4 linked regions of the Homo sapiens genome follow. The protein of the gene in region 1 binds, or shares a complex with, the protein of each later gene. Each region holds a gene or a part of one and is shown in the gene's direction. Other genes may lie near its edges. The genes, in order: GTF2E2, GTF2F2, POLR2D and GTF2H5.

Evidence for each region.
Region 2: GTF2E2 (region 1) and GTF2F2 share a complex: the UniProt entries of both Homo sapiens proteins name them as parts of the TBP-based Pol II pre-initiation complex.
Region 3: GTF2E2 (region 1) and POLR2D share a complex: the UniProt entries of both Homo sapiens proteins name them as parts of the TBP-based Pol II pre-initiation complex.
Region 4: GTF2E2 (region 1) and GTF2H5 share a complex: the UniProt entries of both Homo sapiens proteins name them as parts of the TBP-based Pol II pre-initiation complex.

The regions. Positions count from the first base shown.
Region 1 is NC_000008.11:30,606,234-30,613,260, reverse strand, and holds part of GTF2E2 (transcription initiation factor IIE subunit beta), read left to right. Parts: intron 1-779; coding exon 780-962; intron 963-6,110; coding exon 6,111-6,204; intron 6,205-7,027. UniProt on the Homo sapiens protein: Recruits TFIIH to the initiation complex and stimulates the RNA polymerase II C-terminal domain kinase and DNA-dependent ATPase activities of TFIIH. Both TFIIH and TFIIE are required for promoter clearance by RNA polymerase.
Region 2 is NC_000013.11:45,263,498-45,270,524, forward strand, and holds part of GTF2F2 (general transcription factor IIF subunit 2), read left to right. Parts: intron 1-3,735; coding exon 3,736-3,879; intron 3,880-7,027. UniProt on the Homo sapiens protein: TFIIF is a general transcription initiation factor that binds to RNA polymerase II and helps to recruit it to the initiation complex in collaboration with TFIIB.
Region 3 is NC_000002.12:127,848,156-127,855,182, reverse strand, and holds part of POLR2D (DNA-directed RNA polymerase II subunit RPB4), read left to right. Parts: intron 1-2,077; coding exon 2,078-2,258; intron 2,259-4,497; coding exon 4,498-4,593; intron 4,594-6,997; coding exon 6,998-7,027. UniProt on the Homo sapiens protein: Core component of RNA polymerase II (Pol II), a DNA-dependent RNA polymerase which synthesizes mRNA precursors and many functional non-coding RNAs using the four ribonucleoside triphosphates as substrates.
Region 4 is NC_000006.12:158,185,350-158,192,376, forward strand, and holds part of GTF2H5 (general transcription factor IIH subunit 5), read left to right. Parts: intron 1-6,627; coding exon 6,628-6,808; 3' UTR 6,809-7,027. UniProt on the Homo sapiens protein: Component of the general transcription and DNA repair factor IIH (TFIIH) core complex, which is involved in general and transcription-coupled nucleotide excision repair (NER) of damaged DNA and, when complexed to CAK, in RNA transcription by RNA polymerase II.

The DNA.
Region 1 (7,027 bases):
ATAGCAGATGGGGAAGACCATTGACTAGTAAGGGTTATGTTCCTTACTTTATAATGCCAGTATGTGATAAGCTGTACTTTGCAGATGGAGTGGGCACTACTCAGTTCACTTTGTCTATTAATATTTGTAGGTGTTTTATTGATTCCTACACATTTTGACTACTAGAAGAATATGGGTTCAGCTTTTTTCAAAGTAGTTGTGATAAAATGGTTTATTTCTCTTCAAAGAATTTATGTAAATAAAACACAGTTTCTTTTATAAAAAGTGAGCACCGTGCTGATCTACTGTTCTGGAATTCTGGATGTCCAGGATTTTAGGCCTGCCAGTTTGTATTCATAAGGTACTTTTAATTTGCCACTGTATTGGCTAGTGTTGTATTTTAAAATAATTAGTAGAATTAAGAATGTGTATATGGGCTGGGCACAGTGGCTCACGCCTATAATCCCAGTACTTTGGGAGGCTGAGGTGGGTGGATCACCTGAGGTCAGAAGTTCAAGACCAGCCTGGCCAATGTGGTGAAACCCCGTCTCTACTAAAAATACAAAAATTCGCTGGGTGTGGTGGTGCGCACCTGCAGTCCCAGGTGCTGAGAGGGAGGGAGGCAGGAGAGGGAGGCTGAGGCAGGAGAATCGCTTGAACCCAGGAGGCGGAGGTTGCAGTGAGCTGAGATCACGCCACTGCACTCCAGCCTGGGCGACAGAGCAAGATTACGTTTCAAAAATATATATATATATTTATGTTCCATTTGTTAATATATTCCAATTGTATCACTGTTACAGGCTTTAGTCAACAATCCCAAAATTGAAGTAATAGATGGGAAGTATGCTTTCAAGCCCAAGTACAACGTGAGAGATAAGAAGGCCCTACTTAGGCTCTTAGATCAGCATGACCAGCGAGGATTAGGAGGAATTCTTTTAGAAGACATAGAAGAAGCACTGCCCAATTCCCAGAAAGCTGTCAAGGTAATCTCTCTTTTCTTTCTATGTCTTAATATAATTTGAATGAATAATGACTTCTTGGTTTTAAAAATATCAAACATTTTACAATTGTTTTTAAAGCTTCTATTATATACACATGGGTTACAGTGAGCCACTTGAAGGTTTGAAATTTGTCTTGTGCCACCTAGCAGGAAAGGGAGCAGCCATCTCTGTGTAACTTTGACGGGTTCTTGTTGCTGTTACTATATGATTGTTTGATTGTTCAGGCTATTTCTGGAAAATTTTCCTCAAAGGCAATAGAGTTTCTCTTGTAAGCTCTGTTTGTAAATAAGAGTGTCTTCTATAATACTAGTAGATGTTCCTTACCTGAGGAACTAGAGGCATTAAAACATGAAAGCATTGGTTAATAACCTGGCTGTTTTGAAGTCCTAAAGGGGCTATCTATGAAAGTCCTACTGATACAGATGACATTTCCAGTTTAAATTTGAAACTCACTGGGGAAAGCTGCTTGTTTCCATTTGTCACAGTTGCTCATTATTAATGTTAACTTGTTAAGCAGGTTCATTCATTTTGCTGCCTGTAGAAGAAAACTTGCCCCTTTGTCTCTTCTTCTTGGTAATGGAATTATACATGTCAGATCTTCTGGTATTGTACTACAAGTCCCTGAGGCTCTGTTTATTTATTTCAATTTTTTTTCTGTTCTATTAATCCATTGTCAAGTTCACTCACTTTTCTTCTTCACTTCCAACTTGTTAAGCCCAGTTGGTGAATTTTTTAATTGTATTTTTCAGTTCTAGTCTTTCTTTGTAAATTTTTCTTCTGGTTTCTGTTTCTTTGCTGAATTTTGTTTTCTTTTTTTTCCATTCGTGACAAGTATCTTTTGTTACACCCTTAAGTATGATTTCTTATAGCTGCTTTAAAATTCTTCTTATTCTAACAGCCGAGTCATCTCAGAGCTGGTCTGCATTGACTGTCTCTTTTATGGGTCATATTTTCCTGTTTCTTCATATATCTAATACATTTCTGTTGGGTCTTAGACCTTGTGGATTATATTAATATGTGTAAAGACTCAGGATTCTGTTACATTCCTCCCAAGAGTGTTTCTATTTGTTTTGTTTTGTGGTTAAGTGGGCAGTTACTCCAAACCTTGTCTGCCCTACAGCAGGTAGCATATGATATGTCTCTTCTGTTCTTCTAGCCTTAGCCCGTTTGCTTGGAATCTTGGAATCTTTTTCCAAGACTGGCTTATTTCACTTAGCATAATATTCTCAAGGTTCATCCATGTTGTACTTGCAACAGGATTTTCTTCCTTTTTAAAGCTGAATAATATTCCATTGTGTTTTTGTTGTTGAATTGTGGGAGTTTTAAAAAATATATTCTGGATATTAATTCCTTAACAGATACATGATTTGCAAATATTTTCTCCCATTCTGTAGGTTGCCATTTTACTCTGTTGATTGTGCTCTTTAATTTGCCAGTTTCTGAGTTTGCTGCACTCTTGTCTATTTTTGATTTTGTTGCCTGTGCCTTTAGTATCATGTTTAAATCACTGCCAAATCTAATGTCATGAAGCTTTTGTCCTATGTTTTCTTCTAGGAGTTTTATAGTTTTGGGTCTTAGGTATTTAGAGTTAATTTTTGTATATGGTGTAAGAGTCCAACTTTATTCCTTTTCATGTGGATATCCAGTTTTCTCAGTGTCTTGATGAAGAGACCGTCCTTTGCCCATTGAATAGTCTTAGTCTTGGTACTCATGTGGAAGATCATTTGACCATATATGTGAAGGTTTATTTCTGGGCCCTCTATTCTGCCTGTATGTCTTTCTTCATGCCAGCACTACAATGTTTTGATTAATGTAGCCTTTTTTTTTTTTTTTTTTTGAGACAGAGTCACACTGTCACCCATGCTGGAGTGCAGTGATGCAATCTTGGGTCACTGCAACCTCTGCCTCCCAGGTTCAAGCAGTAGTCCTGCCTCAGCCTCCTGATTAGCTGGGATTATAGGCACACACCACCACACCCAACTAATTTTTTTATTTTTGGTAGAGATGTGGTTTTACCATGTTGGCCAGTCTGGTCTCGAACTCCTGACCTCAAGTGATCTGCCCACCCTCGGCTTCCCAAAGTGGTGGCATTCCAGGTGTGAGCCACTGCACCTGGCCTGATTAATGTAGCTCTGTAATATATTTTGAAATCAGTAAGAGTGAGATCACCAATTTTGTTCTTTTTCAAGATTGTTTTGGCTATGTATTAGTCTATTCTTGCAATGCTATAAAGGAATGCTTGAGACTGGATAATTTATAAAGAAAAGAGATTGATTTGGCTCACAGTTCTGCAGGCTCTCCAGGAAGCATGATGCTGGTGTCTACTCAGCTTATGGGGAGGTCTCAGGAAACTTATAATCATGGCAGAAGGTGAAGGGGAAACAGGCTCATCTTACATGGCCGGAGCAGGAGCAAGAGAGAGTGGGGAAGGTGCCACACACTTTTAAATGACCAGATCTCATGAGAACTCATTATCAGGAGAACAGCACCAAGAGGGAAATCCACCTTCATACCAGTCACCGCCCACCAGGCCCCACCTCCAACATTGGGGATTACAGTTTGACATGAGATTTGATGGGGACACAGATCTAAACCATTTCAGGCTTTTTGAGGTCCCTTGAGATTTGATATAAATTTTTGGATGGATTTTTCCATTTCTGCAAAAAATGCCATTGGGATTTTGATAGGGATTACCTTGAATAGGTAACTTTGGGTAGTATTGCCATCGTAACTGTATTAAGTTTTTTAATACATGAGCACAGAATTCATTTATTCATGTCTTTAATTTTTTTTAGCAATGCCTTCAGGTTCTTTCATTTATTTTATGTATGTACAATTTGACTGTCCCTTATCTGTAATGCTTGGGACCAGAACTGTTTCAGATTTTGGGATTTTTTTCAAATTTTGGGATATTTTCATTATACCAGTTTAAACATTCCAGAGTTGAAAATCTGAAATCCAAAATGCTCCAGTGAGTATTTCTTTCTTTCTTTCTTTCTCTTTTTTTTTTTTTTTGAGGCGGAGTCTCTTTCTGTTGCCCTGGCTGGTGTGCAGTGGGGTGATCTCAGCTCACTGCAACCTCTGTCTCCTTGGTTTAAGAGATTCTCCTGTCTCAGCCTCCCAAGTAGCTGGGATTACAGACACCTGCCACCGTGTTCAGCTAATTTTTCTATTTTTAGTAGAGATGGGGTTTCACCATGTTGACCAGGCTGGTCTCAAAACTCCTGACCTCGGCCGAGTGCAGTGGCTCACGCCTGTAATCCCAGCACTTTGGGAGGCCGAGGCGGGTGGATCACGAGGTCAGGAGATTGAGACCGTCCTGGCTAACATGGTGAAACGCTGTCTCTACTAAAAAGTACAAAAAATTAGCCGGGCGTGGTGGCGGGCACCTGTAGTCCCAGCTACTCGGGAGGCTGAGGCAGGAGAATGGCGTGAGCCACCGTGCGGAGCTTGCAGTGAGCCAAGATCGCGTCACTGCACTCCAGCCTGGTTGACAGAGTGAGACTCCGTCTCAAAACAAACAAACTCCTGACCCCAAATGATCCTCCTGCCTCCCAAAGTGCTGGGATTATAGGTGTGAGCCATCACACCTGGCCCCCAGTAAGTATTTCTTTGGCATGTCATGTCAGCACTTAAAAAGTTTTGGATTTTGGATTCGAGATTTTGGGATTTGGGTTGCTCATCCTGTAGTTATCACCTTTTACCACCTTGATCTAGTGGACTATTATTTTTAAGCTACTTTAAGTCATTTTATGAATAATTTACATAAGTAAGAATAATGGGATGATGAAAACAGCTTTATTAGAGATTTTAGTAAGAATTTAACACAGCAAACTTCTGTATCAAGTAATTTTTGGAAAACACATCAAAAAGAAGAATACTGTCATATATCCTTTTAGCAAAGTGAGATGATAAAGATTCTTTTCACAAAATACTGTGTGATAATCTTCTGGTGAATAACGGGATGAGAATATTGTTTCCATTTTGTATTGAGAAGCATTTTGTTCGCTTGTTGATTCTTAAGCTTGAGAATCTTCACTTGAGTTATTGTCATCTAAAGACTCCATAGCTTGAGACTTTATTCCTATGATGAATTTTTGCCAGATAGTCTAGAGTGCTGCTATTTGGCTTTTTGCATTCATATTTTGATTCATCTAATAATTGTGAAATGTCTTTGGTCAGTTTTCTTGTCTTTGCTCTCAAGGGTAGAAAATACAAAATTTTTTTTGTCAGGTGTACTCAATGAAAGTTAAAAGACAACAAGAAGACTCTTCCAATCTTTTATATCTCTTGAAAAGGAGTAATGTAATCCTTTGGGCAATGCAGTAAGAAAACTGAAGGATGCCCATGTATTTCACTATTGCATCACATTTCTAGGTGATTTAATCATTCTTCTATTTTCTTATTATTTTAGCGTTTTAAAAGCACAATTGGAAATAATTGATGGGTAATGATGAGTAAGGAGCGAAATATCTCAAGGTAGAGGAAAAGTAAGAACACCAAGATTCTATTATGTGTCTTAGATTAGTGAAAGAGCCCCATGGACCCAAATAGTAATTGCAGCAAAGATTGAATTTTCCGTTTTAAGTGAAACACGTTTTATTTTTGTTCTTTGGAAGACCTCTAAGAATACAAGTCTGGAAATATCAATTTTTAAAAAATTGAACTACTCAAGAAAGAAACTCAAAAACTAAAATTGGGGCTGAGTGCAGTGGCTCACACCTATAGTCCCTGTACTTTCTGATGCTGAGGTGGGAAGATCGCTTGAGCCCAGGAGTTCAAGACCAGCCCTGGCAACATAGTGAGACCCTTTGTCTACAAAAAATTGAAAACATTAGCTAGACGTGGTGGCAATGCACCAGTGGTCCCAGTTACTCCAGAGGCTGAGGTGGGAGGATTGCTTGAGCCTGGGAGGTTGAGGCTGCAGTGAGCTGCACTCCAGTCTGGGTGGAGTCTCTTAAAAACAAAACTAAAACTAAAATTGGGTCCAGTGGACCTATGGTGGAGGACCCTATGGTGGTATACTGAGTGTGTTAAGGAAATGAAACTCCTTTATTGTTTAAATTTTTTTTTTTTTTGGTGAGGTAATTTGGAGTTAACTGAAAAATCTTTATTTTATCTATCTTTAAGGCTTTGGGGGACCAGATACTATTTGTAAATCGTCCCGATAAGAAGAAAATACTTTTCTTCAATGATAAGAGCTGTCAGTTTTCTGTGGATGAAGGTGAGCTTTTCTGTATTATACTTTAGTTTGCAAGTATATTACAATTTTAGGGTGGTAAAATTAATATTTATAATACAATTATAATTTAAATCTTATATTGCTTTTTTAGCATTATCATTTCTTAGAACACAGCCAGTGGCCCCTGTGTCTAACATATTGTTGCTTAGAATGCAATTTGAAATATGTGATTTGAAAGATTTTAGGTTAATTATACTTACAATCGCAGTTCAGGATTTCTTAATGTTTATAGCTCAACTGAACCAAACGGGTTTATTTCTTTATCTTTAGACTTTTACAAATGTAAGTTCATATCCTGATACAAAAGCTTGATACAGGATGGGAAAAAGAATAAACTTTTATTGGTGAATAGTGTTCTCTTATCTTATGAATCTTTCAGTTATCAAATTGAATAAGGAAGGAGATGATGTTTTTCTTTCTGGAAATTGTGGAGTTGGATGCTAAGCTGTATATTGAATCTCTTACTAAGTATATGATACGTATGTTTGGACTTTAGTTTTAAATTTTTGTCAATAATTTGTCATTAAACAAGGGTTTAGTGATGAAAAATGTATTATTCAAGTTTACCAATTGCCATTTTAGCAAGTGTTGGTGGTATTTTACTGTAAATTTGTATTACTTTTGAAGTTTTATAAAATGGCAGGAAAATAATTGGACATCAATTTAATTGATTTTGTGATTTGTGCAGTAACCTTAAGTTTTCCTTTTGTTATCTGTCTATAGATATCCAGGCTTGTGGTTCTGGTAGATAGGGCTTTAGTTTCCCTGAACTTGTTTTAGGAAATTGTATTTTTGTGAAAATCCC
Region 2 (7,027 bases), on another chromosome or scaffold:
GATTACAGGCGTGAGCCACCGCACCTGGCTTACAGACAACATTTTTAAGAGTTTTTGTTTACTACAGATTATGTAGTCAGGATACCTTGAAACTATGCTTCCAGGTGGCTATCCTCAAGCTTTGGGCTCGAATAAACTATATAGTTAATTTTATTTTCTGAATCTCATTACTTAAGATTGACATATGCCTGTCAAGGACAATAACTACCATGGTTTCCAGTGCTTTGATGAAACCAAACGCCATGCATCTGAGGTTTTATGTTGTTGGAGCATTCATTGCATCCCTGGGGGTTGCAGCTCTCTGTAAGTTTGCTGTGCTGAAGCAAGAAATAAGGCATATGCAGATTTCTTCAGAAATTAGGATTCCATGAAAGATATTGAGGAGATGAGGAAGGCTGGTATCTTTCAGAGTGCAAAGTGGTTTGGGAATATAAAGAATTTGCTTGGATTGAATCACATGGAAGTTTGTCACTGACTTGTGTTCGTGAACTATGAAACACGAATATCTAGGCTGAGAAAGAGTTCGTCTTGATAAGTAAACAATTAACAAATATTTCGGACAGGAAGAAAAAAAACAGTTTTTGTTCACTAGGCAAATGTAGAGGTAGGCTGCAGTGCCCCCAGGAACTAAACCAGTGATATACATGTTAACACAGAAAGATAAGCATATATTTTTAGTCTGTTTTTCTAATTTTAAAGAGAAAGCACCAACATTAACTTCAATTTGAGATTGAAGCATGTAAACCAAGATTTTTTTTTTATTTTTTATTTTTTATTTTTATTTTTTTATTTTTTTATTTTTTTGAGACAGAGTCACTCTGTTGCTGAGAGTGGAGTGTAGTGGCACGATCTTGGCTCACTGCAACCTCTGTCTCCTGGCTTCAAGCGATTCTGCTGCCTCAGCCTCCCTAGTAGCTGGAGATACAGGCGTGTGCCACCACGCCCAGCTAATTTTTTTGTATTTTTAGCAGAGACTTGGCCGTGCTGGTCTTGAACTCCTGACCTCAAATGATCCGCCCACTTTGTCCTCCCAAAGTTGCTGGGATTACAGGCGTGAGCCACTGCGCCTGGCCCCATGATTTTTGAAAAATCTGGGTAGAATTCGGTAATTTTCTTACTACTCATTAATGTTACTAATTACAACTTAATCCGACCCTTACTCTTATCCCTAGTGTTGATTTTAAAGTTCTTTTCTAATTTATTAATTTTTACCTTTGATTCAGGTCCTCTTGCATCTGACATGTGACTCTGGGTTGGGACAACTTGATAACAACACTTAAGTTTTCTCTCCACAGCCAACTAGAATGTGCGCCCTCTGTAAAGTAGGTTATCTTACTTTACCAGTGGGCTTATTTGAAAACATTTTTCATGTTAAACTTCCTAGCTTCTCCAATCATTTTACACAAGAAACAGCCTACTGAAGGTGGAAACTGAGTATACCATCACTTCTCTGCTATTTCCTGAATTTAACTTGAGACTGAGGCCAGGCGTGGTGGCTCACGCCTGTAATCCTAGCACTTTGGGAGGCCGAGGCGGGCGGATCACGAGGTTAGGAGTTCGAGACCAGCCTGGCCAACATAGTGAAACCCTGTCTCTACTAAAAATACAAAAATTAGCTGGGCATGGTGGTGCGCACCTGTAATCCCAGCTACTCGGGAGGCTGAGGCAGGAAAATCACTTGAACCCAGGAGGTGGAGGTTGTGGTGAGCCGAGATTGCACCACTGCACTCCAGCCTGGGCAATAGAGTGAGACACCATTTCAAAAAAAAAAAAAAATTGAGACTGGCTGGATTTCAGTCTTCCCTAACAATACAATCTGTGTCATTCATTTGCATTTTTTTTAAGCATGGTGATCTTGTCCTAGGTAGCTCTTTGTCCATTACTGCATTTAAAATGCTCAAGGCCCTCCCCTCTCTAATCATTTTAATCCATTTAAAGCCGTTTTAGAAAGAAAAAGCTGTCTTACTCTCCCCATATCTTAGCGCAATGCCTAGCATATAGTCATGCTTAATCTGCTGAAGCTCAGTGGAGTTTGAGTTTTACTCCCAGTTCGTACATATCAAAAAATGAAGATGATTGAGTCCTTTCCCTTTGTCTCACTCCCAACTTTATTTAATTGAAAAGTAGATACTCAAGGTTTTCAGTTACCTTTTACCACTAATTTGACAGTCTCTCATAAGACATATTTTTAGTTTTAATATCAATAAATCAATAGAAACTAAATTTTATCCTTTTATAACAAATCTTTATTGTTAAAATAGAGTAAGCTAACTACCTGAGGCTATTTGTGGAATAATTTATTTGTAAGTTTTTAAATGTATCCCATTGTTTTCGAAGCTAGTCCCCAGATTATAATTATTCCAGCTGACCCACAGGACATTCTTCTCTGGCAGTTTCCACCCAACCTACTGATGCTTTCTTCACCAGGTTGGCCCCTTCAACAAGTTTCTGATGGTTTATACAAGTGAAGTGTTCCTAAAAAGAAACAAACAAATATCTCAATTAACTAAGTAATAGAACAGAACTTGCATATTTTAAGTAAAAAGGGTGATGTTTTACAATTGAACAGTCCCAGGATGGTAACAGTAGGAGGGAACTTCTTCATTGTGTTAGTGCCACTGCTTTTTAAGCTGGCATGCATGGAGGTACACAAAACTGCAGAATAAACATAACACATGGTCCTGAAGTGTCATTTTTATTTGGATAGTAGATACTGTATTTTTTACTTCATGTTAAAAAATAAAGATGTATTATACAGGTGAATTTAGAGGTCACATGAAGTTTTAAATGGGAATTTCAGAAAAATGGTTTGCTTGTGTCTGAGATGATAAGTATATAATTACCCCTTTCTCTTGTTAAACTAACTTTTATTGTATGGGAAGAGAAACAGGTTCAAGGAGGTTGCACAGGGTCAGGATGAGAAAAGGTCCATGTCCTTTCCTTTTTACCAATGCTTCCCAAACTTTTCACTCCGTAAAGAACCCGTTTTATAATCTGCCTGCCTCCAAGAACCCCACATTTGAAAGATGTTACCTATGAAACTGCATCTGTTAGATAAACTGTTTTACTGTTAATCAAAAACAAAAGCACTACACGTTAGAGTTTTCGATCAACACAAGATAACCAGTTAACCGCACTGAATTGATACAGTTTTGGCAAAAGGCCTTTTTGGGGGGAAATGTACACATTATGCATTACATAAAGCTTTAGGGGATAATGAAAGTGACTGGAATTATTACTAACTTAGAGCCTTAAAGATACGGGGACCCCAGGAGTAACAGGTCCCAGGTTCTGAACTACTGTTCAGAGGCCTGCTGCCTCGAAACTTACGATCTAGTCGTTAATGGATGACTCAAAAGAGAATGCCTGGGCAAGCACGGTGGCTCACACCTGTTATCCCGACACTTTGGGAGGCTGAGGCAGGTGGATCACCTGAGGTCAGGAGTTCCAGGCCAGCCTGGCCAACATGGTGAAACCCCGTCTCTACCAAAAATACAAAAAATTAGCCAGGCGTAGTGGCGGGCACCTGTAATCCCAGCTACTCGGGAGGCTGAGGCAGGAGAATCACTTGAACCCAGGAGGTGGGGGTTGCAGTGAGCTGAGATCATGCCACTGCACTCCAGCCTGGGCAACAAGAGCAAAACTCTGTCTCAAAAAAAAAAAAAAGAGAATGCCTGTGTTTTAGAGTGAGCATGTTGAATTGATGCTTTTATTTCCTTTGCTGTTTGCATATAGATCGAATATGAAAGGAAAAAGAAAGAAGACGGAAAGCGAGCTCGAGCTGATAAACAACATGTTTTAGACATGCTATTTTCAGCCTTTGAGAAACATCAATACTATAATCTTAAGGACTTGGTGGACATCACAAAGCAACCTGTGGTATGTATATGTTCATACTGATCCTTTGAATATGCCCTCCTTCATTAACACGACATTACTGAAAGTGTGTCATACATGATTTAGTTCACATTTACCTATGCTAATGACTAATTTTATGACAACACTCAGAAAAGATGTCTTAATGCAGCCATTTTTGGTAACATCAGCTTTTATTTTACATTTTAGTACTCTTAATAATTATTTATGAAGAAAAGAAATTATCCTCATGTTCATTTATTCTTGACATTAAGCCTGAAATCTGTTGATACCATTTCTGGTCTTTATTTTGTTTCCCTATCTTCCTCTGAGAAAGTTTAACTCCTTCCCTTTTTTTGGAAAACATGCCTCATAGAAAAATCGCATTCTTTAAAGAATTATACTGTTTTGTCATTGTGGGAGGGTTTATCCCTGTCTTGTGAATTGTTTTCTGTGGATTTTTTTTTTTTTTTTTTTTAATTAGAATCTGTGTAGGTCCTTTTAAACCTGAACTGAACTGCACTTTCAAATTATGCTTGCAGAGATTGTGATTAGGTTGGCCTGTTCCCCATTTTTAAGGACAAATTTAACAAATTCGTATTTTAGAAAGTTTATGTTTGTTTTATAGTCATTTTTATCTCTTCTCTAGGCTTTTGTGCATTTACTAGTAATTTGCATTAATAATCCATTTAAAATGATGATAACAATAAGAAATTCAAATTCTTTTTCTAGTCTTTGAGTCACATTGTTTTCCATTTAACTTTCTCCACCACATGTCACCAAAGTATCAGACTGAGTATTTACTTATAGGTTTAAGAAAATTGAATGGAAACCCTTTTATCTCATTTCCTTTACCATTTTGTCTACTCTGCCGGTATACTCAAGAATCTGTTGATTCTTGCTGCTCCATTTATTGGATTCAGAATATGTAACAATAACCAATTTTAAAAAACATCTTAACATAACCAAATAACCTATTTGTGAAAGGACTTGATTTTTTTTATTTATACAAAGCTTTAGGAAATGATTTATGAAATTTTAATGTTCATTATACAGTTTCTCCTGCAGATATTTCTTTACTATTATACATCAACCCTTGCCTTTTGTTAAGAAATTAATTTGAATTCCAAAAGATTTACTTTTTAATAAGAAGAAAGTGCTCATGGTGGAGTATTATCAATTCATCCCAATGACTTCACTCCCTTTGGCATCAAAGCCTTAGAAACAGCATTCTAAGCTAGATTAAAAATTTTTTTTGAAATAGAATAAATAACTCATTAGCTAAGCTGTGTTTCTTCTGGTTTTAATGAAATTTATCTTTGTATTTATATATATAAATATATCTGTATGAAAAGACCCTTCCAGAAACTCTGAAAACAGACGAGATTCTCATGGAATTAAACACAAAAAATTAGATATGGAAAATAATCACTTGTAGAGGGGCATTCAGATGATACTAGGGAAAGCAGTTTCTTTGCCTTCACATGGGATATAAGGTTTATTCATTTTGCATCAAAGAACAAGTATTACTAGTGTGTCTTTTGGTTTTGGTTCTTAAGATATTTTTTATATGGTAGTACTCAGTGAATCTCTTACAACAGAGCTTCTTAATTCCTAACCAGTGGATGGACTTAAGGGGATCCATTAACTTCCTGAAAATCTGCAAAAATGTATGAATTGTTCTGGGGAACATATCATCCATAGTTTGTATCAGATTCTCATAGAAGCCGCTGATCTCAAAACTAACTTTTTAAATAATAGTTTTATTATTTAGAGACTAAATTGCCTCAATAAGCATAAGATTCCTGAAGGCAGAGTTGTATGCTATTCCTATCCCTAAATATTCATATACCCCATAGTGTAAAAGATGGTAAAAATTCAGCAAATATCTCATGAATTGATTTGAAAAAAGAAAATCCTCAGTCTCCAAGGGCCACCATATTTTCTTCAGATGGATTTTGGCAGGCCTCTCACGTCATTTATAGTGAGGTTGGGGCAAAGAGCCAGTGCCAAGAAAGTGTGGAATGCCTTCCCCAGGCTGGGGGTAGGCCAGAGGTAGTTACCTCCTCCTAGAGGAGAGGGCAGGAAGTGGTCAGCATGGATTCCAGTCCATTGACTGGGAAAGAAAGTTGCCAAAGTCTAGCTCTCCCCCAAGTAGGCAACTATCCCCCTTTAAAAGGATTCGAGGACATAAGTGAATCTGTACTAATGGTCATCAGTACCCAAGAGACTTGAGGAATCTATTCTAGCATGAAGATCAATGGTCCAGGAAAGGGGGTGTTCTGGTATAATGGAAAGAACCTGGATTTGGAGTATGAGATCCTAGTTCAAGTCCCAGCTCTACCATTTAGCCAAATAGTCCTGGACAAGGTACTTAAATACATTTAATACATTACTTATATTTAGTTCACTTAACATATGTAATAATATAAAATTTACCAATATGTTCAAATTATAATTTATTTTGGGGGTGGGGTGTTTTGTTTGTTTGTTTTTGAGATGGAGTTTTGCTCTTGTTGCCCAGGCTGGAGTGCAATGGCACAATCTCTGCTCACTGCAACCTCCACCTCCCGAGTTCAAGCGATTCTCCTGCCTCAGCCTCCTGAGTAGCTGGGATTATAGGCGCCCACCACCACACCTGGCTAATTTTTGGATTTTTAGTAGAGATGAGGTTTCACCATGTTGACAAGGCTGGTCTTGAACTCCTGACCTCAGGTGATCTACATGCCTCAGCCTCCCGAAGTGCTGAGATTACACGTGAGCTACCGTTCCTGGCCAAAACCTTCATTTCTATAAGTAAAATTATTGGCTAGAGAAACTTTGCTTAGGGCCCGTCTTTTTCTCTTGTTTGCCAGTATGTGACTTACATAAGCAACTAGAAAGAGTGAAAGTTACTCATCAAGGAGGCCAAGCTTTGGTAACTGATATAAAGTCGGGGACATAGTATCCATTTAAAGATATATTATCTTAGTCTGTTTTTTGTTACTTATAACAGAATACCTGAAGCTGGGCAATTTTTAAAGCAAAATAATTTGTTTCTTAAAATTTTGGAGGCTGAGAAGTCCAGGATCAAAGGGCCACGTCTGGTAAGAGGCTTTTTACATCGCTTAGTGAGGAGGCTGAGCGTGCTAGCTCAGGTCTCTCTTCCTCTCCCTCTTTTTATAAAGCCACC
Region 3 (7,027 bases), on another chromosome or scaffold:
TCAGGTGATTCACCTGCCTTGGCCTCCCAAAGTGTTGGGATTACAGGCGTGAGCCACTGCGCTTAGCCTGGGAGGCATCTCTTAACATTGATTTTTCCAGGACCTGTAAAAGCATCAAAGTTCCAACAAACAGATTTGTAACTGATTAGCTGCTGCTTCCCTTTTTTTTTTTTTTTTTTTTGGCCTGATGTCATTTGTTACTGTCACTTCAGAGTTTGGAGGTTCTGCAGTCCTGATACATAATGCCTTTTCCTCTACTCATTGCTGTGAGGCAGTAGTTTCTTCTGTACCTACACTGCCTCAGTGTTAAGGATTAAAAGAGGTAACTTTCCTGGTATACAAATAGGCTCTCACTGTAGTAAATCCCCTGTTATAGGCTAGAAGACTGAAAAAGAAGGTGTTCTGAGGTTTTCGTTTAAACTCTCCTGCCCTCAGGTAGAAAACAGTTTTTGGTTACCTATTTTTTAATTTATATTTTAATTTTATTTCAATAGTGCTCCAACTGTATTGGCAGCCTATTCTATTTAGTAGCAATGAGTACCTTTCAAATAAAAATACAGTTTCCTCCTGACCCACCACTTAAAACTATCTGTGTTGTAAAAGGAAAATGAAGCTCTTGTCAGTTACCTGGCTTGAGAAATGGGAAGGCATTACTCTGAGGGAGGTGTTAGTGATTTCCCTGATAGTAAACAGACCCATAGCACATCTAAATGTGAAATTGCAAGTCGTTTTGGCTTTTCCTCACTGTTGCTTCCTCTTCAGTGTGGGGTTATAAACATGAATTCATGTTTATGAATGGTTCCTACTCTAAGGGAACTCACTGTTAAGAGAAAGGCAGATAAAAACTATCTCTAATACTTTGAGATAAACATTAGGAACATAAGATCCTGCAGGAACGTAAGGGAGAGAATGATTTTCCCAAGGGTAACAGCATTTTTTAACAGAACTATTGTAGAAATGTAGAAGGTCGCCGTATATTATGAAAAGGGGCCATGGGTTTCTTTTTCTCTCAAACCTAATTCTTAAAAATTGCTTATAACATTTGTGTGTGCACAAAAATAGATTTTGGGGTACATTATATTTATTTCCAGACACTTGGCCCTATTTAACATGTAACAATTCTTAAAATTGAGAGTATAATACTAGCATTATGGAAGTAGGAAGATGATGAGCTGATGCCGGCTAGAGGGAAGGAATTGTCAGTGTACTCTTGAAATCAGTAACTAGTCTATGTGTCATTACTTAGTAGCATGTCTAGGTCAGGTTTTTGGTGTCAGAATCTAGCTCAGACAAGCTAAATGTTAGTGTCTCGTGAACTCCACTGTGCCTTGTGGTATGTAACTGTGCCTTGTGGTATGTAACTGTGGGTGAACTTAAAGATGTGGAGTAGCTGCAGGCATAAAAAGGAAGGAGATCCCAGCCTGGGCAGTGTGGTGAAACCCCCATCTCTACCAACAACACACAGGGTGTGGTGGCGTGTGCCTGCAGTCCAGCTACCTGGGAGGCCGAGATGGGGATGGGGCATCACCTGAGCTCAGGGAGGTCAAGGCTGCAGTGAATTGTATTCATGCCACTACACTCCAGCCTGGGTGACAGATTGAGACTCTGTCTCAAAAAAAAAAATAAAAGAACGAAATCATATCTTTTGCAGCAACATGGATGGAGCTGGAGGCCATTCACTTAAGCAATTAACACAGGAACAAAAGACCAAGCACCTCACATTCTTATAAGTGGGAGTTAAACCTTGAGTACATATGGACAGAAGGGAACAACAGACACTGAGGCCTAGTTGAGGGGGTGGGTGGTGCAGATTGAAAAACTATGTATCAGTACTATGCTTATCACTTGGATGACAAAATAGTCTGTTCGCCAAACCTTCACAACACCCATTTTCCCTGTAGTACAGACCTGCACATGCACTCTGAACCTAAAATAAAAGTTCAAAAAAAAGCAGATGTGGAGTAGGAAACCCCTCGATTTCTGCAGGGGCAGAGAAATGTTCAAATGCACAGTGAACATTTAGAAGCAAACTTTTGAAGGAGTATTTTCAGCTGCCATTTATGCTTCTTACAAATAGAGTTTGAAACAGCTGAGACACTTCTAAATTCAGAAGTTCATATGCTTCTGGAACATCGAAAGCAGCAGAATGAGAGTGCAGAGGACGAACAGGAGCTCTCAGAAGTCTTCATGAAAACATTAAACTACACAGCCCGTTTCAGTCGTTTCAAAAACAGAGAGACCATTGCCAGTGTTCGTAGGTGAGTGCTAAAAGAAAGTTTTTATTAATCCAAACCATTGGACAACTGCATGTAGAATGCTGTCCCCTCCCCCTTTCCCAGGTGTCACTTGTGAATTTAAGTAAAATAATGTTAGGCTGGGCATGGTGGCTCACACCCAGCACTTTGGAAGGTTGAGGCAGCAGATCACTTGAGGCCAGGTGTTCAAGACCAGCCTGGTCGATATAGCAAAAACCCGTCTCTGCTAAAAATGCAAAAAATTAGCTGGTGGTACACACCATTAATCCTAGCTGCTCAGGAGGCCGAGGCGGGAGAATCGCTTGAATCTGTAGGCCAAGGTTGCAGTGAGCCGAGATTGCGCAACTGCACTCCAACCTGGGCAACTTAGAAGACCAGAATTTCAGCCAGGTGTGGTGGCTTACACCTGTAATCCACACTTTGTGGAGCTGAGGTGGACCAGTCTCTTGAGGCCAGGAGTTCAAGACCAGCATGTGCAACATGGTGAAACTCGTGTCCCTACAAAAAAAATACAGAAATTAGCCAGGTGTGGTGGCAGGTACCTGTGGTCCTAGTTACTTGGGAGGCTGAAGTGGGAGGATCATGTGAGCCTGGGAGGTTGAGGCTTTAGTGAGCTGTGATTGTGCCACTGTACTCCAGTCTGGGAACAGATTCAAATATGAATCTGTCATATTTTGTGTAAGTCCAGTATGTGTGATCTAAATGGTACTGTTAGTGGGGAAGTAACTTTTTTTGTTATTTTTTTTAGAGATGGGGAGACTTACTATGTTGTCCAGGCTGGTCTCAAACTCCTGGCCTCAATTGATCCTCCAACCTTAGCCCCCCAAAGTGCTGGGATTGGCCGGGTGCAGTGGCTCATGCCTGTAATTCCAGCACTTTGGGAGACCAAGATGGGCACATCTCTTGCGGTCAGGAGTTCAAGACCAGCCTGACCAAAATGGTGAAATCTCGTCTACTAAAAATACAAAAATTAGCTGGGCGTGGTAGCGCATGCCTGTAGTCCCAGCTACTTGGGAGCCTGAGAAAGGAGAATTGCTTGAACCCGGGAGAGGGAGGTAGCAGTCAGCCAAGATCGTGCCACTGCACTGCAGCCCGGGTGACATAGAGTGAGACTCCATCTCAAAAAAAACAAAGTCCTCGAATTAGAGGTAAGCCACCATGTCCAGCCTATAGATAGATAGATAGATAGATAATAGTATTTGTACCTATGTATGAGGTACATATGATATTTTGTTACTTAGAATGTGTAATGAGTATGTTAGGGTATTGAGGGTATTGATCATTTCTATGTATTAGGAACATGTCAAGTCTCCCTTAGCTATTTTTATTTTATGTATTTATTCATTGATTTTAGAGACAAGGTCTCACTGTGTTGCCCAGGCTGAAGACGTCTTGAACTCCTGGACTCAAGTGATCCTCCTGCCTTGGCCTCCCAAAGTGCTAGGATTACAGGCATGAGCTGCTAAGCCTGGCCTCTTCTACCTTTTTTTTGTTTTGTTTCGTTTTGTTTTGAGACAGTCTCACTTCATCACCCAGATTGGAGTGTAGTGGTGCGGTCTTGGCTCACTGCAACCTCCACCTCCCAGGTTAAAGCAGTTCTCATGCCTCAGCCTTCCAAATAGCTGGGACTACAGACACACACCACCACACCCGGCTAATTTTTTTAGTTTTTTGTTTTTTTGGTTTTGTTTGTTTGTTTGTTTGTCTGTTTTGAGACGGAGTCTAGTTCTGTCACCCAGGCTGGAGTGCAGTGGCGTGATCTTGGCTCACTGCAGCCTCCGCCTCCCGGGTTCAAGCAATTCTCCTGCCTCAGCCTCCCGAGTAGCTGGGAGTAGCCCGCCACTGCACCCAGCTAATTTTTGTGTTTTTAGTAGAGACGGGGTTTCACCACGTTGGCCAGGCTGGTCTTGAACTCCTGACCTCCGTTGATCCACCCGCCTCGGCCTCCCAAAGTGCTGGGATTACAGGCGTGAGCCACTGCGCCTTGGCAATTTTTGTATTTTTAGTAGAGACGGGGTTTCGCCATGGTGCTCAGGCTGGTCTCGAACTCCTCACGTCAAGTGATTACCCACCTTGGCCTCTCAGAGTGCTGGAATTACAGGTGTGAGCCACTACACCTGGCCGTCTAGCTATTTTTAAATACTAGCTACGTTTGATCCCTTTTTTCCTGTTGATTACTCTTTGATTTTTGTTGTTTATTTGTTTTTGATTATTTTGATTTTTTTTTTTTCCTTTTGATTAGCTTGCTACTCCAGAAAAAGCTTCATAAGTTTGAGTTGGCCTGTTTGGCCAACCTTTGCCCAGAGACTGCTGAGGAGTCCAAGGCTCTAATCCCAAGGTTAGTACCAGTTGTGATAAGTTCTCTGTATACTGGATAAATTCCTACAAATAGAATTGGTGTGTCTAAAATGTGTATGCGTTATATATTTGGGTACATAATTGCCAATATTGAATGAAAGTGCCTTTTTTTTTTTTTTTTTTTTTTTTGAGACGGAGTTTCGCTCTTGTTGCCCAGGCTGGAGTGCAGTGGTGTGATCTCGGCTCACCACAACCTCTGTCTCCTGGGTTCAAGCGATTCTCCTGCCTCAGCCTCCCGAGTAGCTGGGATTACAGGCACGCACCACCACACTTGGCTAATTTTGTGTTTTTAGTAGAGATGGGGTATCTCCATGTTGGTCAGGCTAGTCGCGAACTCCCAGCCTCAGTTGATCCACCCGCCTCGGCCTCCCAGAGTGCTGGGATTACAGGCGTGAGCCACCGTGCCCAGCCAAAAGTGCCCTTTTAACAGTGTGTGAGAATGATGGTTTTATACCACACCAAGTGATAGCAAAAATATGAAACAGCTGGAACTTCTGTACGCTGATGGTAGGATTGTGAGTGTTAATTAGAACAATCATTTTGGAGAGTGATTTGGCTATGTCTGGTAAAGATGAATATACTCCAAGTTCCAAAAATCCATTCCTGGTACATATCCTAAAGGTAACTCACACAAATTTAGAAGGAGACGTATATTTTAGTGTTCATTGCTGCATTGTTTTGTTTTTAGTAGACATGGGGTTTCACCGTGTTGGCCAGGCTGGTCTCAAACTTCTGGCCTCAAGTGATCTGCCTGCCTCAGCCTCACAAGTGCTGGGATTACAGGCATGAGCCGCGGTGCCCAGCCTCATGCTCCACTGCTAATGATAGCAGAAATTTGATAATCTCTTGGCCAGTAAGAAAATGGATAAATGAATCATTGTATAATCATACAATGTTTATTATACAGCAGTAAAAAAAAAATCAATGAACTAGAACCACATGGAATATCAACATATGCCAGAATGAATTTTGAGGAAAAAAATTGCAGAAGGATAAATACAGTATGATGCCATTTCTTATAAAGTTTGAAACTATGCTGCATATTATTTACGTATCCATAAATGTGTAGTGAGTATAAAAATATGTATGGCAAAACAAATTTTTTTTAAATGTATGGCAATGATAAATACTAAATTGAGGATGGTGGTTATTTCTGGGGAAGGAGGGAAGGTACTGGTCTAGGAGAGTATACACAGCCATCCACTTTTCCTGCTTATTAAAGAACTCTGGGCTGGGCGCAGTGGTTTAAGCCTGTAATCCCAGCACTTTGGGAGGCCGAGGCAGGTGGATCACAAGGTCAGGAGGTTGAGACCATCCTGGCCAACATGGTGGAACTCCATCTCTACTAAAATACAAAATTAGCTGGGTGTGGTGGTGTGCGACTGTAGTCCCGGCTACTCGGGAGGCTGAAGTAGGGGAATCACTGGAACCCGAGAGGTGATGGTTGCAGTGAGCCGAGATTGCGCCACTGCACTCCAGTTTGGCAATAGAGCGACACTCTGTCCCAAAAAAAAACTCTGGCCAGGTGTGGTGGCTCACACCTGTCATCCCAGCACTTTGGGAGGTTGATACCATTAGAAAACATGAAGACAGTAAATGAAAAAATGCAGGGCCGGGCGTGGTGGCTCATGCCTGTAATCCCAGCACTTTGGGAGGTTGAGACAGGAGGATCACCTGAGGTCAGGAGTTCGAGACCAGCCTCGCCAGTGGTGAAACCCCGTCTCTACTAAAAATATAAAAATTAGCTGGGTGAGGGCTGGGTGTGGTGGCTTACGCCTGTAATCCCAGCACTTTGGGAGGCTGAGGCGGGCGGATCACGAGGTCAGGAGATCGAGACCGTCCTGGATAACACAGTGAAACCCTGTCTCTACTAAAAATACAAAAAATTAGCTGGGCGTGGTGGCGGGCACCTGCAGTCCCAGCTACTTGGGAGGCTGAGGCAGGAGAATGGTGGGAATCCGGAAGGCGGAGCTTGCAGTGAGCCGAGATTGCGCCACTGCACTCCAGCCTGGGCGACAGAGCAAGACTCCGTTTGGTAGGCTGAGACAGGAGAATCACTTGAACCCTGGAGGTGGAGGTTTTGGTGAGCCGAGATCATGCCACTTCACTCTAGCCTAAGAGGCAAGAGCGAAACTCCATCTCAAAAAAAAGAAAAAAAAAAACCTCTAAGTCAAGTGGGGCTAACTGTAAAGGTATATTTTTTATACCTTTTATCTTTTATATGTTTGAAATATTTTGTAATGTTTTATCAGGAAAAGTGGAAAAGAAATCCAGATGAAAGGTAAAGGTGTTAGAGATGTGGGCAGTAGATTAGCACGCCTCAAAGAAGAGTGCGGGGAAATTGCCAGTCGCCAAATCACTCATTTCTTTTCATTTTCTTGTAGCTTGGAGGGACGGTTTGAAGATGAGGAGCT
Region 4 (7,027 bases), on another chromosome or scaffold:
AGCAATGTGGTGAAACCCCATTTCTACAAAAAATACAAAAATTAGCCAGGCATGGTGGCGTGCGCCTGTAGACCCAGTTAGTCAGGAGGCTGAGGTGGGAGGATTACCTCATCCCTAGGAGGTTGAGGCTGCAGTGAATTGGGATTGTGCCACTGCACTCCAGCCTAGGCAACAGAGTGAGGCCCTGTCTCAAAAAAAAAAAAAAAAAAAGTTTGAAGCGATTGATATTAAAGCGTTATTTCAGTGTTCACTGGCCAGTCATTCCTCTAAGCTGTCTCATTTGTCAGTTAGCATATTTCCCCAAGTGTGCGGAATACCATTAGTGTTCAAGATGATTTGAAGAACATACATTTTGGGGGAGTAGAATAGAAAAATAGGCCAGGCTCAATGGCTCACAACTGTAATCCCAACACTTTTGGAGGCCGAGGCGGGTGGGTTGCTTGAGTCCAGGAGTTCGACATAACAGAACCCTATCTCTACAAAAAAATACAAAAAAAATCTGGGTGCAGTGACATGTGCCTGTAGTCCCAGCTACTGGGAAGGCTGAGGTGGGAGAATCATCTGAGCCCAGGAGGTCAAGGCTGCAGTGAGCCGTGATGACGCCTACTGCCCTCCAGCCTGGGTGACGGTGAGACTCTGTCTCAAAAAAAATAAAGAGAGCAAAAAAATTTTTTATATGACCAGTTTAATTTATTTGAGGAGAAGAGGAAACTGACATATCAAACTCTTGGTTTTATGCCAGATGAAACGTTAGTTGATTTAAAGGCAATTTAAAGAAAAATATTAAGTGATTTGCAACAGAGATGTTACAAGAGATGGCTAAAATAGCAAGGATGGTATACAAATGGCAAACATTTTGAAAGCATTGGTGTGATGATTCAGCACAGATATGAGTCCTGAGGCGCTTCTTGGTTTTAGTGGTTTAGCTCTGACTTCATTAAGATGATGTAAATTTATTCCATTTAGAAAATTCCCAAAGTCTTCATAACCACTTAACTCTTGCTGCCTTTAATACCTGTTAGTAGTAGCCAGTTACTGAGAATAAATTGGTGTCATCTGAATGTACTGAGCTCAAACTGTAACAAGTTAATCTATCACATGCAGACAGCAATGTTTCAATGTCCAGTTTGTCTTTTATTACTGTTACATTTGGATCCAAAGTTTATTTTAAAGGGCTAACACAAAACAACTGTTGGTCCTGTAAATCAAAAAGTATCTGAGACAAGTCTCAATCAATTTTGAAGTTTATTTTGCCAAGGTTAAGGACATGCCCATGACATATCCTCAGAAGGTCCAGACAACTTGTGCCCAAGGTGTTCGGGCTACAGCTTGGTTTTACACATTTTAGGGAGACAAAATATCAATCAATACATGTAAGATGTACATTGGTTCAGTCTGGAAAGGCAGGACAACTCAAAGCAAGGGGAATGGGGGGCGGGCTTCCCGGTCATAGGTAGATTCAAAGATTTTCTTATTGGCAGTTGATTGAAAGAGTTATTATCTAAAGACCTGGAATCAATAGAAAGGAATGTGTGGGTTAAGGTAAAGAGCTGTGGAGACCAAGGTTTTATCACGCAGATGAAGTCTCCAGGTAGCAGGCTTCAGAGTTGTTTTTGTTTTGTTTTGTGTTTTGTTTTGTGTTTTGTTTTGTTTTGTTCTTATTAGACGAAGTCTCCCTCTTGTCTCCCAGGCTGGAGTGCAATGGTGTGATCTCGGCCCACTACACCCCTCACCTCCTGGGTTCAAGCGATTCTCCTTCCTCAGCCTCCTGAGTAGGTAGTATTACAAGCGCCTGCCACCACGCCCGGCTAATTTTTGTATTTTTTTGTAGAGACGGGGTTTCATCATGTTGGCCAGGCTGGTCTCGAACTCCTGACCTCAGGTGATCCACCCACCTCAGCCTCCCAAAGTGCTGGGATTACAGATGTGAGCCACCGCACCTGGCCCAGAGCTCTTATCAGACCTAAAAAGGTGCCAGACTCCCCTGGATCAGGGAAAAGACCTGGAAAGGAATGGAGAGTCTCTACAGAGTCGATTATTCCCACAAGAGACAGCTTTGCAGGGCCGTCTCAAAATATGTCAAAGAAACATATTTTGGTGTAAAATACAATTTCTTTCAGGGCCTGCCATCTGCCATGTGATGCTTTACAAAAGTCAAGCTGGAATTTGGTGTTTTATTCCTACAAAAAGTCTGTTACCTGGGTCTTAAGATCTCTGTTTTTTTGTTTGTTTGTTTGAAATGGAGTCTCGCTCTGTTGCACAGGCTGGAGTTCAGTGGCGCGATCTTGGCTCACTGCAAGCTCCGCCTCCCAGGTTCATGCCATTCTCCTGCCTCAGCCTCCCGAGTAGCTGGGACTACAGGTGCCTGCCACCACATCTGGCTAATTTTTGTATTTTTAGTAGAGATGGGGTTTCACCGTGTTATCCAGGATGGTCTTGATTTCCTGACCTCGTGATCCGCCTGCCTCGGCCTCCCAAAGTGCTGGGATTACAGGCGTGAGCCACCGCACCCGGCCAAGATCTCTGTTTTAATGTTAATACTGGTCAGCTATGCCTGAATTCAAAGGGAGGTGGGTATGAGGCATGCCCAACCCCCATTCCCATCATGGCCTGAACTAGTTTTTCAGGTTAACTTTGGAATGCCCTTAGCCAAGGGGAGGGTCCATCAGTCAGTTGGCAGATGGGGGGTGGGGTGCTTAGAACTTTATTTTTGGTTTACAATCCCATTGTGTAAAGTGTATACTAAGAAACCTCTATGATTTTTATAGAATATATTGAAGTACTTGTGGGGCCTGGAGAGTGAAGTGGGCACCACGGTCATATGAGTCCTCCCTTGTTTGCAAGGAAAGCTTAATTGTAGAGCACTGAAGTCCAGGTTTTTGTCTGACTCTCCCCTCCCCAGCCATCATACCTGTCTACTGTTGAATTACTCTCCTTTTATTCTCCCCACCAGTCCCTCCCCTTCTACCTTTATTTGTATGTGCAAGGAAGATTTGAGGGAAACAACTAAATTTTTAAAGAGTCTGAGTAGAAAAACAATGGTTTTCAAGAAACTGAAACTTTGGTTTCTCTGTCCTATAGGCCTCATTTTCCTTTCTGCAATATCATCGGGAAGCACCCTGTTTAACCTGCTTCATCAACCCCACGTTCCTTCTAGAATTGCTCTTCAAGCTTTTTTCTATTTTATGTTTCCACCTGTGCTCTTTGTCAATAATTAATCAATTGTTTACCTCTGAAATTTCTCAGTGTACAGTGTCTTACTGTTCTAGAAAATCTTTTCATTTAAATTCTTATTCTGTATAATACTCAAATTAGAGAATTGCTGAAAATGTGAAGTTTAACATTTTTTTGTATCTGCTTAAATCAGTGACCATTATGCTCTGTTTGTAAAATACCCCATTCATCCTCCTGTCACCAGCTGTTGTTGCCATTCAGTTGCATGTCAGTGTCATCCCGGAGATCCTCATTCTCATTAAGCCTTATATGCCGATTTTTCCTTTTTTTCAGTCACCCAATAAACCACAGACTCCCAAGCTATCTCTGTCTCTTGCATTTTCATGATCTATGGCCCTGTTCACCATCTCCTACCCACCACCCTCCCCCACCTACCCACCGCAATCCTTTCCACTTTGCCCTCTGGGACATAGTGAGATGGCAGCAGCAGGATGCCCTGTAGCCTCAGCCTCTTCTCTGAACTTTCCTTTTTCCTTCCCCCACCCACCTTTTCCTTTTTTGCTGTGACAAAACCTGACTTTGTCCTGAGCTCACTGCTTCTCCCACCACCTTATCAGGTGGTGCCTTTTTTCCTCTACAAAGGCACCCTCTTGTACCATTGGGTCAGGAAACAGGATCAGTACCTTGCTTATTATTGCCACTTCCAGAAATTCTCCCTCCCTCTTCCATAGAAACCCCCAGTTATCAATCCCAGATCATCAGAGTGGACTACCCACCAACCCTCCTCTTTATAATCATCTACAGACACCCCAATCTGTCCTGAAGGTTTTCCCTTGAAAAAACTATCTTCAGTAGCTCTTCTCTCAAATCCTTAGTGATGTTAGTATCCGTGTGGGTAGTCCTTTAGATACCCTGTTCTCCCAGTTCCCTGGCCTCCTCTTCCACTGAGCTTGTCCTCCACCTCATCACAGCCACTCATTCACATAGTTGTAGCTAGACCTATCCTTCCTTACCCTCGTGCCAGCTCTTCAGTCTCATTTCAGGCATCTGACTCTGACCACCACCTCCTCTTTCCAGTTCACTCCCTCTCATACCTCACTCCATCATTTCTTCAACTTCGCCAGACCTATGGTCTGTTGATATTCCCATCTGTTCAGAGTCCCACACCTCTTCCTAGCTTCCAGTCTACCTTTCTGGTCGTTGTAGCAAAATTTCTCAGTAAAGAGAAGACTTGGTTCTCTTCACTGTCTCTAATTTCTTTCCTCCCATATGAAACCCACTCCAGTCATGCTTTCCCTATTATGACTCCACCAAAACTGCTATTGCCAAGGTCCAGTGACTTTCTGAATCCAGGGATCAATTTTCAGCCCTTGCTATACCCTATAAGCCTTTGACAGAATTGATCACTCCCACTTCCTGAGTAGCCTTTGTTCACATCGCTTTCAGGACTCTTTGGGTTTTCTTTCTACCTCGGTGGTCACTTCTTACTCAGCTTCTTCACTCAGGGGCCAGTAGGCATCTCAAAATATAACATCAAAAACTAAACCTTTTTTTTTTTTAGTAGAGTCAGGGTCTCACTGTGCTGTCCAGGCTAGTCTCTAACTCCTGACCTCAAGCAGTCCTCCAGCCTAGGCCTCTCGAAGTGCTGGGATTACAGCATGAGCCACCATGCCCACCCTAAAACCAAACTTGATCTTACCTGCAGATCTTACACATTCCTCTTTATCTCAGTAAAAATCTCCTCCAGTCTTCCATTTGCTCAGATGAAAAATCTTGGAGTTTTCTTGTTCCTCTTTCTCAAAGCTCATGTCCAGTATTAGCAAATTATGTTGGTTTTATGTCAGTATATATCTAGAATTCAACCACTTCTCATCACCTCCACTATTACCACCTACATCAAAATCATCATCTCTTGCCTGGATGTCACCTCATGGGTCCCCTGCTTCCATCCTTGCCTCTGCCACTCCCAGTCTTTTCTCAACCCAGCAGCCAATATGATCCTTACAGTTAAAATTTAAGTCAGTTTGTAAGTTAAATCATGTCACTTGGTAAAACCCAAAGTCCCCCAAATCAGTTCTGAGGCTCATACTCATCTAGGGATAGAAGTAAATCCCGTGTTAGCATCAGTTAATACCTGTGCTTGTACTTAAATCTTATTTTTCTTGTTTTCAGTAAATTATAGTGACATCTTTTGGATTAAATTGTTACCTTTACAATTGATATTGACATTTCTCAAGACACCAAAAGATTATATGAGATTTTTTTCTCAAGAATTGCAAAAATCTGTGGTGCAGCTTGACATTTTTATATTCATTTTTTGCTAAACACATTGTGTATTAGATCTAAAGAGTGTCCTTTGTCATGATTCAAGGTTTTTATGAAAGAGACATTTTGCTGTAAATCTGTACTGCCCGAGAAGAAATTGTATCCCTCTTTTCCCTTATGACTATCCTATTCTTTCCAAACCAAAAACCACAAGTTAATAAAATTGAATTTGGACCTCTTTCCTTGAATGCCTATTACAAGCCAAGCACTGTCCTTGACATTATCTCCTTTAATTTCCGTAAACAATTCTGTTATGTAGCCTCACTTTTGAGGTTGGGAACAGAGGCTCTGGGAGATTAAGTACCTATTCTATTCAAGGTCACACAAGTAAGTGATGAAGCTGGGGTTGAATCCAGGTATGACTCTTGATATACACCCTGCCTGACCAAAGTGACTGTTTAACTGGTTTTGTAAGTTAATTTGTCACTGGTAAAACATTGAACACCTACTGGTTCCTTAGATGTAATGGGCATAGACAAGGAAGAAATTCAGTGTTTAAATCAGTTAAGAAAGCTGTGATTCTAGGCCCTACTAACTACAAAGCTTTCAATATTCTTTTATTTTTTCCACTTAGTGACAAATTATTCTTTAAAAATCTTGCCATTGGCCTCTGCCTCTTCAACTTACACTAATAGTTCTTTTTTTTTTTTTTGAGACAGAGTCTCGCTCTGTCGCCCAGGCTGGAGTGCAGTGGCACGATCTCCGCTCACTGCAAGCTCTGCCTCCCAGGTTCACACCATTCTCCTGCCTCAGCCTCCCAAGTAGCTGGGACTACAGGCACCCGCCACCACACCCGGCTAATTTTTTGTATTTTTAGTAGAGACGGGGTTTCACCGTGTTAGCCAGGATGGTCTCGATCTCCTGACCTGGTGATCCACCCACCTCGGCCTCCCAAAGTGCTGGGATCACAGGTGTGAGCCATCGCACCCGGCCAACTTACACTAATAGTTCTAAAATGAAGCCATGTCTATAAATTGTTAACACTTGAGGCAGAGAGGAAGTGAGGGATTGAGTAACAGAACTTTAAAAATCATTCTAAAAATTCTACATGTTCACATTTAATTGCTCAAGTCTCTGTGATGTGATTTGACAACAAGCTGTCTTACAATCATGTGTTTGTCTTTACAGTGATCCTGCCATGAAGCAGTTTCTGCTGTACTTGGATGAGTCCAATGCCCTGGGGAAGAAGTTCATCATTCAAGACATTGATGACACTCACGTCTTTGTAATAGCAGAATTGGTTAATGTCCTCCAGGAGCGAGTGGGTGAATTAATGGACCAAAATGCTTTTTCCCTTACCCAGAAATGAAAATACTCAATATGGACCATTTAGGAATTATAAGCAGCAACTGTGAAAGACTTGCCACTCAATATCTTAGGTGACTGATTAGACATAGAGGGTTGTTTTAGGAGCATGCCACGGGAAAGACTGAGGGATCATGATCATTTGTTCAGAAAAAAAGCCCCTGAACTGATTTTGTTACCATAGAATTTAAAAAAAAAAAAAGCTTTAACAGTTGGCTGTAAT